2 separate regions of the Homo sapiens genome follow, and region 1 is linked to region 2. The links come from fine-mapping of genetic effects on gene expression. A gene starts in region 2. The other region holds a variant in brackets. All regions are shown on one strand. Distances are between the middles of the regions.

Region 1 (2,909 bases), 770 kb after region 2:
AAATATCCAAAATTTATGGAATTTTCTAGATAGCCAGTGAAGTAACCTATAAATGGGAATTGTTTTATTTCCTCTTTTCCAGCCGGTATATATTTTATTTTTTTCTTAACTCATTGCACTGGGTAGGACTTTTTGTACAATGTTAAGTAGAGGTGGTGAGACAGTATATCTTTGCTTTTTTCCCAAGTTAGAGAGAAAGCATTCAGTCTTTATGTAACATTAAGTCTGATGTTAACTTTATGCTTTTTATAGCTGTCTTTTATCAGGTTAAAGAAGTTATATATTTCTAGTTTGGTGAGAACTTTTAGCAGGAATGGATATCAAATTTTGCCAAATGCCTTTTTTCATTTACTGACATAAGAGATATTGATCTGTAGTTTTTATTTTCTCTTTTTTGGAATGTCTTTGTCCAGTTTCTGTATCTGAATGTTTATTACTTTGATCAATTCAGATATTTCTTTGTATCCATGTATTGCTTGTTCTCTACTCTTTCTATTTTCTTCTTCTGGAGCTCTTTTCAGATGTATGTTAGACCCTTTGGTCTATTCCCCATATTCCTATTTCTCTTTCATGTTTTCCATCTGCAGTAATTTGCTAGGGTTAACAAAACCACAGATGGTGTAGCTTAAACAACAGGATTTTATTTTCTTACAGTTCTGGAGACTAGAAGTTCAAGATCAAGGCATTGGCAGGTTTGGCTTCTTCTGTGGCTTCTTTCCATGGCTTGCAAATGGCTATCTTCTTGCTGTGTCCTCACGTGGTTACCTCTCAGTCTGTGTGTTGTCTGTGTCTTAATCTTTTTTTTTTTTTAACGATACTTTAAGTTCTAGGGTACATGTGCACAACGTGCGGGTTTGTTACATATGTATACATGTGCCATGTTGATGTGCCGCACCCATTAACTCGTCATTTACATTAGGTATATCTCCTAATGCTATCCCTCCCCCCTTCCCCAACCCCACAACAGGCCCCAGTGTGTGATGTTCCCCTTCCTGTGTCCAAGTGTTCTCATCGTTCAATTCCCACCTATGAGTGAGAACATGCGGTGTTCAGTTTTTTGTTCTTGCGATAGTTTGCTGAGAATGATGGTTGTAACTCAAAATAATCTTCTCTTCTTCTAAGGACACCAGTCATATTGGATTAGTGCCCACCCATATGACCTAATTTTACTTTAATTGACTTTTTAAAGACCCCACCTTCAAATACAGACACATTCTGTGGAACTAGTGTTAGGACTTCCACATATGACTTTGGACAGAGGGCACAATTCAGCCTGTAGCACCA[T/C]TTCTTTATTTTTCAGTGCCTCATTATAGTTGGTTGTTTTTAAAAACATAATTATTTAGATATAATTCTGTATTACCCTGTTCTTGCATTGCTGTAAAGAAATAGCTGTGACTGGATAATTTATAATTTAATTGGCTCATAGCTCCACAGGTTGTACAGGAGACATGATGCTGGCATCTGCTTGGCTTCTGGGGAGGTCTCAGGAAACTTACAATCATGGCAGAAGGTGAAGAAGAAGTAGGTGTCTCATATGGTGGGAGCAGGTGCAAGACAGAGTGAGGGGGGAGGTGTCACACACTTTTAAGCGACCAGATCTCAAGGGAACTCAGTATCATGAGGAGAGTATCAAGGGGGATGGTGTTAATCCATTCATGAGAAATCCACCCCTATGATCCCATCACCGCGTACCAGGCCCCACCTCCAATGTTGGGGATTACAACTCAACATGAGATTTGGTGGGGACACAGATCCAAACCATATCAAATTCACATACCATAAAATCAACCCATTTAAGGTATACAATCCAGTGGATTGTAGTATACTCACACAGTTGTGCAATTACCACCACAAACTAAAAAAACAAAATGCTCCACCTATTAGCAGTCACTCTCCATTTTGCTCCCTTCCTAAATCCTAGGCAACCACTAATTTACTTTCTGTCTCTATAGATTTGCCTATTCTGATATTTTAGTATAAATGGAATCAGACAGTATGTGGTTTTTCTATCTGACTTCTTCAGTTAGCATAATGTTTTCAAGGTTCATCCAAAGCGCATGCATCATCAAGTTGTTCTTTTTAATTGCTAAATACTACATCATTACATGAATATGTCACATGATGTGTATCCATTTATCAGTTGCTAAACATGTGGGTTGCTTCACCTTACAGTTAATATGAATAACACTATTAACATTGTAGACACACTTTTGTGTGGGCATATGTTTTCATTTCCCTTGGGCAAATACCTAGGATTGAAATTGCTGAATCATATGGCAAGTCTGTGTTTGACAATTTGCAAAACTGCCAAACTGTTTTCTCAAGTGCTGCGCCATTTTGCATTCCCACTTAAAATGCCTAAAGGTTTTGATTTGTATGTATCCTCCCCAACATTTATTAGTATGTGACTTTTTTTATTCTAGCCATTTTAATGGATATGAAGTTGTGTCTCATTGTAGTTTTGATTTGCATTTTCTTGATGACTAATAATGTGAAGCATCTTTTTATGTGCTTGTTGGTGATGTGTTTTTTCTTTATTCTATTAATGTGATATTTTATATTGATTGATTTTCATAAGTTGACCCAATCTTGCATTCCTAGGATAATTTCCACTTGCTTATGGTGTGTAATCCTTTGTATATATGGCTAGATTCAGCTTGCTGAGGGTTTCTTGCTTGTATATTTCTAAAGGATATTGGTCTGTAGTTTTCTTTATGTGATTTATTTGTCTGGTTTTGGTATCAGGGTAGTGTTGGTCTCGTAGAATGAGCTGAGAATTGTGCCCTATTCTTTTGTTTTCCGGAAGCATTTGTGAAGAATTGGTACTAATTTTTCATTAAGTGTTTGGTTAAATTTATCTTTGAAGCCATCTGGGCCTGGGCTTTCCTTGTGGCTGGCTTTTAAATTAT
Region 2 (2,887 bases):
TAGAACCGTGTAACAATTTTATTTGAAGGAGAGCTTAGAAAAGATCTCTTATGCAAAAAAAAAAAAAAAAAGAGAGCTTTTAAAAATGAGAGTGGCTTTTAGAATATTTGTCATTTTCCACGTATAAGACAACCAAATACAGTTTGCACAGCTAATCAAAATTAGGAAGTTATATTCTTACTGCTTAATATTTAAGTGTTGATAATATGGTAGGTCTTGTGAAAAAAAAACCTGTCTTCAAATGGTAATAGAAATTATAAATCGAGATTATATGTGTTCCCTTGATATCTTAACTATTCCTACTCACCTCAAGTGGCAGCTTGTAACTAACACGTACCACATTTACATGTTCCATATACGTGCCTGTGTACATATGTAACATGTGCCACAATAGATTTACACGCATCATAATTTTCACTTTGCAAACGTATAGAGTACCTACTGTGCATGAAAAATTATGCTGAGGAGCTTTGGTGTGTACAGAGATAAGAAATGCTTCCTATGGCCTGTTACTATTTGTGCTACTCAAAAAAAGGTTTTGTACTTTGAGATGGGAGGGAAGTCATCTACTAAGTCAGGCTTTTGTTTATTTATATCCCAGTGCCCTTGATCTCCTGCAAAAACAAAAGGCAAAAGCTTGTTTTAAAAAACAAAACATTTGCAAGGATTTGGGTTTGTTCTAGAGCAAGATCACGCATTCTTCAAGACATCTGTTCACACAGAAGAGCTAGGTCTTTTAAAAAAGCTAGGTCTTTCAAAAAAAAAAAAAAGGAGTTCGTTTTGTTTTTAAAACAGGACTCTGTTCCGGTGAGAGCTCGGTGAAGTCCTGATCGGCACCCATGAAGGTGAGGCCGCACGAGTCCAAGGGCCAGAGGCCGTGGGAACAGCGCGGGTCCGACGGGTAGGAGGGGGCAGTGGGTTCGAGCCTCCACGCTTACATACAGCCTGCCAGGGCCTTAGAGCCCTCTGACTGCGAACCACCGCAGAGAGGTGCGGAACGCGGCCCCGACCCGGCAAAAGCCGTCCGCACGCCTGCTGGGCGCGCAGCCACGTTGACTACTGCAGCCTTCCCGGCTCGGCGAGAGCCTGCCAGCCAGCCGAGGCTGCGCCCTTTCCGCGGTCGGGATGAGCGGTTCCAGGAGAAAGGCCGCGAGGGCGGGGCTTGGGGCCTGGCGCGGCTATTTCCTCACACCGCGGTCAGTCAGGACGAGAGGCCGCGTTCAGGCCAGTGCAGAGCGCCACATGGCGCTACCAAGTCGGGCCCCGGCGTTGGCGGGCACAGAAGCAGTGTAATGCGGGAAGCCTGCAGCCCACACTGGGGAAGGATGTGCCAGCTAACGAATGTTTCACCACAGCCCACATGCCTGGGAGAGGGAATTTGAGAGCACGTGGGGGAGGGGCGAAGAGAGCTGTCGGCTCGCAGAGAGCATGCTCCATTCTGAGAGTCGAAGTGGAGAGCCAGGCATGCGCAGTGAGCCCAGGGTGGGTTGGCAGCGGTGAGGGACTGGCGCGAGCAGGCTGATGTGTTTATCCGGTTTTCTGGGTGGGCGGTCAAAGCGCACGCGGAAGGGCGAAAGGCGGCGGAGCTAGGTAGCAGCTTGCGCATGCGTGGAGTGAGCCGGTAGCTCTGGGAGGCTGTGGAGGGGGTTGTTAGAGGAGAAGCAAGGGAAAAGGGAAGCGAAGGGAGAGGAAAGGGGGGAGGGGTGAGAGTGTGCTCTGCGCATGCGTGCGAGCGCTAGCGACGACGGCGGCGGGGGAGTCTCGGGGATGACAGTGGCTTTGCCCGTTGGGGTAACGGTCGTCGTCGCCGCCAGCAGAGGCCTGAGGCGCCACACAGCCCGCGGGATCCATTAAGGCCGCAGCAGCCCGGGCCCTACCGAGCTGGAGTGGCGCGTGGAGTCGGGGTGAGGGCGGCGAGGCACGGGGGAGGGGCCTGCGGCGGGGCCTTGCTGTGTGCGCTGGGCGGCGGCGGGGCCTGGCGGTGTGAGCGCTTGCCTTCCGCGGCCGGGGAGTGCTGAGGGCGGCGGCGGCCGTCGTGCTCGGCGGAGGAGTCGTCTGTGTGTGTGGCGCCGAAAAAATGGCCGGGCAGTGAGGGGGCGGCGCTTGAGTCTGGTGACCCCGGAGTGTGCGACTGAGGCGCGAGGGGCGCCGCCGCGGCCCGGCCGGGCTTGCCCCCCGCCCCCTCCCGCCCGCCGGCGGCGGCCCGCGCACTTCCTCCCCGGCCTTCCCCTCCGGGTTGAGGACTCCCGCCCGCCTCGCCACCTCGGGGAACTGCGGGCTGCAACCCACGGGGCGGAGAGCCAGGGCGCAGTCTGGGCCCCGCGTCCGATATGGAGAGCGCGGCGGCGGCGTCCGCCAGCCGCAACATCAACCTTCGTCGCCGCCGCGGCGTCTTGCACTAGATCCGGGAAGCCGCTGCCCGACCGTCGTCCTTGCCGTCGCCGCCGCCTCCGCGCCCTGTACTGGGATGGAGTAAGAGGCCCTGCAGCCCGGGAGAAGCGTGCCGCGCCTCAGACGGGGCCGGGGCCTGCTCCCGCGCCTGCCAGCTCGACTTGAGGAGGCGCCTCCGTGTCCGGAGATGGAGCTCGAGTGCAGGCCGCCTGCCGAGCCGCGGGGCTAGACTGAGCTCCGAGTCCCGCCCCGAGCGCCCAAGCCGCCGCGTTCTGCGCTCTGTGGTCGCTCCGGACGAACTCGAACGCTGGTTTCTCTCTCATATTTTTGGTCTGGAAGTCTCAGGGACGGAGGGGCGCCAAGGCCCCATGTGTGGGAGGATTGTTTCAGCTCCACAAACTTGCACGGATTTTGGTTACTTGTTTGGCCAATGGTTCGGCTCTGATTTCTTCCGAATTGTTGCAAATTCGCCATCGTTCCCTGGCTGCTTACTAAG

Which allele goes with the higher level. Positions count from the first base shown, and alleles are read on the strand shown. Sizes are in standard deviations (SD) of each study's normalised expression.
In carriers of allele C in region 1, the expression in regulatory T cells of the gene that starts at base 1,719 in region 2 tends to be lower than with T alone (large effect, 1.2 SD a copy in Schmiedel 2018).

Evidence for each region.
Region 1: its variant is fine-mapped to the expression of MSL2 in regulatory T cells (Schmiedel 2018, PIP 0.95).

The regions. Positions count from the first base shown.
Region 1 is chr3:135,425,947-135,428,855 of GRCh38, reverse strand. All of the region lies in intron 4 of LOC105374122 (a long non-coding RNA gene), which reads left to right. Among named protein-coding and RNA genes, the nearest start is that of PPP2R3A, 540 kb to the left of the region's middle. The variant T/C (reference allele first, on the strand shown) is at 1,285.
Region 2 is chr3:136,195,167-136,198,053 of GRCh38, reverse strand. It overlaps MSL2 (MSL complex subunit 2), which reads left to right and starts at 1,719. Exons shown (of 2, transcript NM_018133.4): 1 at 1,719-2,887. RefSeq lists enhancers at 1,172-1,471, 1,642-1,691, 1,269-2,015, 2,642-2,711, 2,016-2,762 and 2 more and a silencer at 1,912-2,301.